2 separate regions of the Homo sapiens genome follow, and region 1 is reported to be linked to region 2. Evidence: microRNA targets listed by miRTarBase, many of them from high-throughput screens and not tested one by one. Region 2 holds a microRNA gene; the other region holds the end of a gene's coding sequence.

Region 1 (4,375 bases), not on the chromosome of region 2:
CGAGTCTATCCCCGGCCTCGGGGTGGCCCTGAACCCCTCAGCCCCTTCCCTGTGTCGCCTCTGGCCGGTCCTGGATCCCTGCTGCCCCCTCAGCTCTCCCCGGCTCTGCCCATGACGCCCACCCACCTGGCCTACACTCCCTCGCCCACGCTGAGCCCGATGTACCCCAGTGGTGGCGGGGGGCCCAGCGGCTCAGGGGGAGGCTCCCACTTCTCCTTCAGCCCTGAGGACATGAAACGGTACCTGCAGGCCCACACCCAAAGCGTCTACAACTACCACCTCAGCCCCCGCGCCTTCCTGCACTACCCTGGGCTGGTGGTGCCCCAGCCCCAGCGCCCTGACAAGTGCCCGCTGCCGCCCATGGCACCCGAGACCCCACCGGTCCCCTCCTCGGCCTCGTCATCCTCTTCTTCTTCTTCCTCCCCATTCAAGTTTAAGCTCCAGCCGCCCCCACTCGGACGCCGGCAGCGGGCAGCTGGGGAGAAGGCCGTAGCCGGTGCTGACAAGAGCGGTGGCAGTGCAGGCGGGCTGGCTGAGGGGGCAGGGGCGCTAGCCCCACCGCCCCCGCCACCACAGATCAAGGTGGAGCCCATCTCGGAAGGCGAGTCGGAGGAGGTAGAGGTGACTGACATCAGTGATGAGGATGAGGAAGACGGGGAGGTGTTCAAGACGCCCCGTGCCCCACCTGCACCCCCTAAGCCTGAGCCCGGCGAGGCACCCGGGGCATCCCAGTGCATGCCCCTCAAGCTACGCTTTAAGCGGCGCTGGAGTGAAGACTGTCGCCTCGAAGGGGGTGGGGGCCCCGCTGGGGGCTTTGAGGATGAGGGTGAGGACAAGAAGGTGCGTGGGGAGGGGCCTGGGGAGGCTGGGGGGCCCCTCACCCCAAGGCGGGTGAGCTCTGACCTCCAGCATGCCACGGCCCAGCTCTCCCTGGAGCACCGAGACTCCTGAGGGCTGTGGGCAGGGGACCTGTGTGCCCCGCACCCCCCATGCTTCTTTTGCTGCCTTAAGCCCCCTATGCCCTGGAGGTGAGGGCAGCTCTCTTGTCTCTTCCCTGCCTCCTCCCTTTTCCCTCCCCACATTTTGTATAAAACTTTAATTTCTTTTTTTTAAAAATGGTGGGGGTGGGTGGGTGCCCAGGGCTAGGGGCTATTCCCTGTCTCTGTGGGTTTCTAAGCTCTGGGCAAAGTGGTGGTAGGGGGAGGGAGGGGGAAGTTAAGGGGGTCACCTCCATTCTGGGGAATTTATATTTGAATTGAGGCTTTGGCCTTAACACCCAGGAACTTTTCTATTACAATCGCTTAGGAAGTAAAGCCTTGTCTCCCTCCCTGTTCTCTGCCTCTTGTACCCCTCTGACCCACCCGCTCTGCCCCACTCCCAGCCCTCCTCAGCCCCAGCCCTGCCTGCCCTGCCCCTCCAGGGGGCCATGAGTGCCTAGGTTTCTCATACCCCACAAGGTCACAGCAGGGGAGGGAGGGACAATTTTATAATGAACCAAAAATTCCATGTGTTGGGGGGTGGGGGGCGGAGGAGGGTGAGGGGTGCCGCCCATGGGCCACAAATCTCTACAAGTGCCTGCTATCCCTCTCCCACTCCCCACCCCAGCACCGGTCCAACCCCTTCATCCCCAGCTGCTCCTAGGACTGGCCCATGGGCAGGCGGGTGGGGGGATGGGAAGGGGGTGCCCTGAAACCAAACTGGAAGCCCCCTCTGCCTCCCAGCTGGGGCCTCTGGGGTGGGGTGGGGGGCTGTGGTCAAGCCTTATTCTGTATTGGGGACTGAGGGTGGGGGGAGTAGAGGGGCCGCTGGAGAATGTATTCAAAACAATAAAACTTTGGACCTTTGGATGCAGTGATCAATGTCCTAGGTGCTCGGTGCAGCCCCCTGAGGGCCACAGCTTTTGCTTGATTCTGAAGGAGGGGCCCCACCCTGGCTGCTAGTGGGTCTGTGGCCAGATCAGTATAGAGGGCCTAACCCTAATCAGAATGGGCCAAATCCAGGCCTGGGAAACCGTCTCCTGACCTCAGAGGCACATGAGCCCCAGAGCTTGATGATAGTGGTCTCAGGCATGCGCCGGCTTCATCAGACTGCTCCTCTGTTCCATGGGGACCTTGTCCTTGAAAGCTCTTCCCACTGTTTTTCACCACAACCCCACTGCCCTTGCTCTTCTGATTGCCTGGATGCCTTCCCACTTGTGGCTAGGAATTCTTCCCACACCCCAGGTCCCCAGTGAAGACCAGGAGCTCCCTTTTGCACTGCCCCTCGCACCCTGCCCACACCCCTCTCTTGTTGCTCTGAGTTCAGCTGGGAGTCCTTTGGAGAACAGCCTGTGGTGTCTCTTGAAATGTAGACCTTGCAAGGTAACTTGGTGATCTTCAGGTCCAGGTATGGGAACACCCCCAGCCAGCACACAGCCAAGGGACTGGCTCACTAGTCATCGATGCTGTTGACCTACTGTGTGTCCAATACTTAAGAGCTGCAGTGTTGTAGCTCCTTCAGTATCCAGTAAGGTAGGGGCAACCAGTGCTGCTAAGTGACTTGCCCAGGGCCCTGTGGCTGAGCCAGGACTTCAAAGCCCACGTTCTTTCAACAACTCCTGACTTTTCCTTCCTAACACCAAGATAGTTGGATCCAGATCAGGCTTTCAGGATCAGAGGATTTGAGATGAGCTCATAGAGCTAGAAGCTGAGATTGGAGAGCTTGAATCAGGGATGAAAGAATTAGGAGGAATAATCCAGGCTGGAAGTACCCTTAGAGACAAGTTCTGTCTCCACCATGCAGGTGAGGTGCCTGAGGCCCAGAAAGGGGAAGGGGTTTCCCCAAGGCCACACAGCTGCTAAGAGATGGAGTGGCAATTGAGGGCTTGTTGGACTGGCTTCGCCATGAAACTCCACCCTGTGCAACCCTGAGGGGGAAGAAACGTTGACTGGCAACTGCTACCCACTCGCATCTCATTTCATGCCAGCCAGGGTGGGTGGTCCCAGATGATGTCGGTTGGCAGGGAAGAGAGGATCCAGGGCTAGGATACTGGCAGGAAACCGAGGCTCCCGAGGCGGCCTGCGGGAAACTGCTCCCTCTCCTGGGTGATGTAAGTCATTCCCTGGGGTGGGGGCCACTGGGCTATTTCTGGAAGCTGGGATGAGACATGTCTCCTGGCAACATAGTTGCAGCTGAGTTGGTGGTGGTGGTGGGGTGATGGAGAAGGGGATGTTGTCACTCGGGAGGAGAGGACCCTAACTACTGGCCTCAGCCCCTGAACCCAGTGCCTTCAAAGCACCTCTAACCACATCTAATATGGAATCATAAGTGCTCAGCTCAGCTCCCTAACTGCTGTCCAGGTCAGACCACAGCCCTACCAGACAAGTTGCCCCAGATTCTGGCTGTGTAGGATGTCACAGGTGGCATTTGGCCTTGAAAACTCCAGCGGCTACTCTAACCTTTAATCGCCCACCTAAATCTATTAGCTAGCTGGCTTGAAATGTTCCTGCAAGAAGACACCCTTGGTCCCATCCATATCCTCTGAGATCCTTGCTTCCAAGTAGAAAGCCCTTTACAGATGCTCTCAAGGCACTTCACATATTAATTAATCTCATCAGAGACCTCCCTGCTTTGTACGTGTAGCCCCAGTACCTCCACAGACTCTCAAAGCCCCTTCCCAATGCTTCTCAACCATCCCTCACCCCTTCAGGTCGCTCAGAGATCCCCTTGGTCACCAGTAATTTCTGTCTCCCATAGACCTTTTTTTTTTTTCTTTTTTTTCAAAACAGAGTCTCACTCTGTTGCCCAGGGTGGAGTGCAGTGGTGCAATCTCAGCCCACTGCAACCTCAGCCTCCCAGGTTCAAGAGATTCTTGTGCCTCAGCTTCCCGAGTAGCTGGGATTACAGGCGTGGGCCACCACGCCCGGCTAATTTTTTTGTGTGTTTTTAGTAGAGATGGGGTTTCCTCCATGTTGGCCAGGCGGGTCTCGAACTTCTGACTGACCTCAAGTGATCCACGGCCTTGACCTCACAAAGTGCTGGGATTGCAAGTGTAAGCCATCGCGTCCACCCACCCATAGAACTTTTAGCAGACAGCCTAAGTCCCCTCAGGCTTCTCCACTGGTCCCCAGTAATTATCCTGTCAACTAAGCTCATCAAAGACCCCTTCACCACTCCACGGACTCCTCTTAGCCCTTCTAGACACCCATAGGCCTCTCTCAGACGTTTACAACCCTTCCTAGCATCCCTCTATGAACATTCTCATCCTCTACAAACATCCTGATAGATTGCAGACCGTCACCTTCAAACTCCCACGGACCCCAATCCCCTCGTGGCGGTTGCCCACACGCAGCGGCGCATGCCCCACGGGTTCTGGCGGTTAAATAACCCTCGCTAT
Region 2 (4,375 bases):
CCTGCTGTACCTCCTGTGCCCAGCCTCACGGACCAGTCAGCTTTCCCTGGTTGCAGGTGGAGGGCCTCGCGCCTGTCCTCCCACCCACCCGGGTCCTGCTTGCCCCAGCTCTGTCCTCGCAGCCCGCACAGCTCTGCCAGCAGGAACTGGGCAACTGCAGCAAGAAGCTTGGGCTGGGCCGGGGCCGCATCCCACTGTCCCTCCCCAAGGGCAGGCATGCAGGGGGGTCAGCCACAAGGGACCTGCCCTTCTCCCTGCCTTCTGTGGGTTGGGAGGCTCCTGACTGAGCCACCTGGAGGGAGAGCCCTCACATTCAGAGCCCTCCAAAGAGTTTGCCAAATGTTGGAAATGCCTCCAGGGCCCGTCCACCAGCCGTCCAGCTTCCGGTGCCTGCATGAGTCTCCGCTTGGCCCTCTCCTCGGCCTAGGAACCCGCAGGTCTTGTCCCGTCAGGTTCCTCCTGAAGCTTTTGTTCTGAGAGGAAAAACTTTCCAGGGTTTCAAACTTGGAAAAACACCTGAACGCAGCCAGACACATTTTCCGTCGTCTGGTCAGCCAAGGAAGTGTTGGCCTGTGGCTGCACTCACTTCCTTCAGCCCCAGGAAGCCTTGGTCGGGGGCAGGAGGGAGGGTCAGGCAGGGCTGGGGGCCTGACCGCCCACACTCCTCCTCAGGCCTGCGGGGAACGCCCTGCTCCCCAACTAAGCAGCCTTCTCTTTGTTCTCTTCCTTCTCTCTGTAAACCCCCGTTTCCTGCCTTGTTCCCTCCCTGAACATGCTCTTCACCTGGCAAGCAGAGGAAGCTACGTTGGGATATGTGAGCAGTGTGCTCCGTGGTGCTGCTGTGTGACCCGCCTTCCCGTAGCCCCTTGCCCCGCTGCTCCCGCTAGGCCCTCTTTCCTGCTCCTGCCCCGCCCCTTTCCCTGCCGCTGTCACGCCTCTTTTCTGCCCTGCCACACCCCATTTCCGGCCCCGCCCCTTTCCCTGCCGCTGTCACGCCTCTTTTCTGCCCTGCCACACCCCATTCCCGGCCCCGCCCCTTTCCCTGCCGCTGTCACGCCTCTTTTCTGCCCTGCCACACCCCATTCCCGGCCCCGCCCCTTTCCCTGCCGCTGTCACGCCTCTTTTCTGCCCTGCCACACCCCATTCCCGGCCCCGCCCCTTTCCCTGCCGCTGTCACGCCTCTTTTCTGCCCTGCCACACCCCATTCCCGGCCCCGCCCCTTTCCCTGCCGCTGTCACGCCTCTTTTCTGCCCTGCCACACCCCATTCCCGGCCCCGCCCCTTTCCCTGCCGCTGTCACGCCTCTTTTCTGCCCTGCCACACCCAATTCCGTGCCCTGCCTCTTTCCTTCCCCTGCCACACCCAATTCTGTGGCCTGTCGCTTTCCTCTTCCTGCCCCTGCATCACCCCCTTTCCTGCCCCGCCCCATTCCCTGCCCCTGTCATGCCCCTTTCCGGCTTTGCCTCCTCCCTGTCCCACCTCTTTCTTGCCTCCACCCCGCCCTTTTCCTGCCCGCTCCTAGACCTGCTGCTGCCCCGGCCATCCCCAGGCTTGGGCAGCGGGGCGGGACGGGACAGCCAAGAGACACTGAGCCAGCTTTGCCCCCCACCCCCCTCTCTTGAGGGGCCGCGCACCACCTCGGGGAGGAGCCAGGGCGGGGCCTGACCCCACAAAGCTTTAGTTCCCCCGGGGAGAGGCTGGGGACAAGCTACCCATTCTGGGGTATGACACCTATCAGCACGTGTGAGCCCGCCCTGTGCCCGGCCCACTTCTGCTTCCTCTTAGCGCAGGAGGGGTCCCGCACTGGGAGGGGCCCTCACAGCCTACCCCGCTAGCTTTCTGCCTGATGGTGAGCTTGCCCCGTTGTTCGCCGCCATCTTTCGCCTTTGCCTGACAGCTCAGGTAGGGCGACGTCTCCCCCCAGCTCAGCCCCAGGCAGAAGTCAGGCCCGCTCTGCACCTCGTGCTGTGCCTGGCCCGTGTGTTCCCCTCACAGTGACGCACAGCCGTCCTGTGGGGAGGGAGGGCTCTGGGAAAAGACCCCCTTCTTGAGTGTTCCCCATCGGTTTGTCCCCAGGGCTGCGCTGGCCTCGGCACACCAGTGCCACCCGCTGCCCCGGACGCTGAGCGTCCTGAAGAGCACGCCGCAGGTACGGGGCATGCACACCATCATCAGGTGAGGGCCCACCTGGGGACGGGGCGGCCCCGGGCGCGTGCTCCCGCTCAACTGTTGGCCCCACAGGGACAAGGAGACCAGTCGCGACGAGTTCATCTTCTACTCCAAGAGACTGATGCGGCTGCTCATCGAGCACGCGCTCTCCTTCCTGCCCTTTCAGGTTCGTAGCCCGTAGCCCGCGAGGTGGAGGGTGGGTCTTGGAGCCGGTGCGAGCTCCCTGCGCTCACCGGAGTCCTCACCCTGCACCCCACAGGACTGCGTCGTACAGACCCCGCAGGGGCAGGACTATGCGGGCAAGTGCTATGCGGGGAAGCAGGTACCTGCCTGGGCACACCTGGGCGCGGGACAGGCTGCTGGGGCGGGATGTGGGCGCTTAGCCTCCCCTCCCCGCAGATCACCGGTGTGTCCATTCTGCGCGCCGGTGAAACCATGGAGCCCGCGCTGCGCGCTGTGTGCAAAGACGTGCGCATCGGCACCATCCTCATCCAGACCAACCAGCTTACCGGGGAGCCCGAGGTGCCTGGGGGCAGCCGGGGTGATGAGCCCGGGGGTAGGGGGCAGAGGGAGCTCACAGCAAGGGGACGCAGGGAGCCCCACCTGCAGCCTGACCCCTGCTGCCCGCAGCTCCACTACCTGAGGCTGCCCAAGGACATCAGCGATGACCACGTGATCCTCATGGACTGCACCGTGTCCACGGGCGCGGCGGCCATGATGGCAGTGCGCGTGCTCCTGGTGAGTGAGCCCTGGGTAGGCGGGGCAGGTTCAGGCAGAGGTGGGATTTACCTGCCCAATACACTCGGTAGGACCACGACGTGCCTGAGGACAAGATCTTTTTGCTGTCGCTGCTCATGGCAGAGATGGGCGTGCACTCAGTGGCCTATGCATTTCCGCGAGTGAGAATCATCACCACGGCGGTGGACAAGCGGGTCAATGACCTTTTCCGCATCATCCCAGGCATTGGTGAGGCTGCCCGGGCCCTTCAGCCGCACATGAGGGCAGGGTGGGTGGCCCTGGGAGGCCCCACCACACTGGACCCCCCCCCCCCTTTTTCCAGGGAACTTTGGCGACCGCTACTTTGGGACAGACGCGGTCCCCGATGGCAGTGACGAGGAGGAAGTGGCCTACACGGGTTAGCTGCCCAGTGAGCCATCCCGTCCCCACCACCCTCCTCCTGCCTCCTGACCCAGGACTGCTGAATACAAAGATGTTAATTTTTAAAATGTTACTAGTATAATTTATTCTATGCATTTTATAAAATAAATAAAGCTTTAGAAAAATGAAGGTGTGATTGGTTACAGCACAGGAGAGGTGTCCTGGCTGAGGCATGCATTTGTGGAGACTCCCATGGGGAGGGAGGGAGGGAGCTGAGGGCCCTGCCTTCTCCCCTGCAGGACCAAGCATTCCCAGTCTTGCACTTGTGCCAGATGAAGGAAGGGGTAGAACTGGGCCCTGCAGCTCCTAGCTCTGCTAGATGGGGCCCCTAGAACCCATAGCTTGGTGGCCACCTGGCCTGGACCTAGGGAGGGGACAGGGCCCCCTGGTGCTCTGGGTCTCACAAGAGGCAGGCTGTTTTGCCCCCACCCACAAATTTGTACCATCAGGGTCCTCCCCACAGTTGGGGGGGGGGAGGGTCCTTCCCGTCAGGACAAGTCGCTGGAGGCAGCAAAGCCAGGAGGCAGACCAGGGCGGAAGTGGGGGCCTGCGCTTGGAGGCGGGGCCACCCGGGGCCCACGAGCCCGGAGCCACTGCTGCTCAGGGCCCGCCTCGCTCACCCCTCCAGACCTGGAGGCCCACCCGCATCCCGTGCTCTCTGCCGTGCCCACGCCCGCAAGCGTGGGTTCCCTTAGGTCCTGCCCACCCTGCTTTCCGAGCAGGCCCCCCCCGGGCTCCCCGAGAGGAGTCGCCGCCGTGGTTTACTGAGGAAGAGGAGGTGCACGCGCGGCGCCCACACGTCGGGCCCCGGAGAGGCCCAGATAACTGAATCAGCCTCCCGGGGCTCAGCCGTGGAGCTGAGGGCTGATGCTGGGGACTCAGCCGTGGGCCAGGCGCATCTGACACGGGACACGGTCGTCCCCGTCCTCTCAGGCGCCAGTGTCTTTCTGCGTGGAAGTCCACGGCCAAAAGCGTGGCGTCCTCGGAGCCTGGCACCTCGATTATGCCGGATCCCGGATCCTGGACAGGGGTCTGCTGACGAAGGGAGG

The links. The annotated mature microRNA hsa-miR-1914-5p reads CCCUGUGCCCGGCCCACUUCUG and lies in region 2 at 1,752-1,773, shown strand. An mRNA with a match to its seed (bases 2 to 7 or 8) in the 3' UTR can be bound and repressed. Matches are read on the target gene's strand: a 7mer-m8 pairs with bases 2 to 8, a 7mer-A1 pairs with bases 2 to 7 and ends in A, and an 8mer does both.
Region 1: miRTarBase lists ERF as a target of hsa-miR-1914-5p. The part of its 3' UTR that is shown has no 7-base or 8-base seed match.

What each region holds. Positions count from the first base shown.
Region 1 is chr19:42,245,041-42,249,415 of GRCh38, reverse strand. It overlaps ERF (ETS2 repressor factor), which reads left to right. Exons shown (of 4, transcript NM_006494.4): 4 at 1-1,847. The coding sequence ends at 951. Among named protein-coding and RNA genes, the nearest start is that of GSK3A, 4.6 kb to the right of the region's middle. RefSeq lists a silencer at 1,965-2,259.
Region 2 is chr20:63,938,909-63,943,283 of GRCh38, reverse strand. It overlaps MIR1914 (microRNA 1914), which reads left to right and starts at 1,740; the gene lies at 1,740-1,819. UCKL1 (uridine-cytidine kinase 1 like 1) reads left to right here. Exons shown (of 15, transcript NM_017859.4): 9 at 2,076-2,174; 10 at 2,241-2,334; 11 at 2,428-2,490; 12 at 2,568-2,690; 13 at 2,799-2,906; 14 at 2,978-3,134; 15 at 3,229-3,455. The coding sequence ends at 3,308. It overlaps MIR647 (microRNA 647), which reads left to right and starts at 558; the gene lies at 558-653. RefSeq lists enhancers at 1-252, 253-966.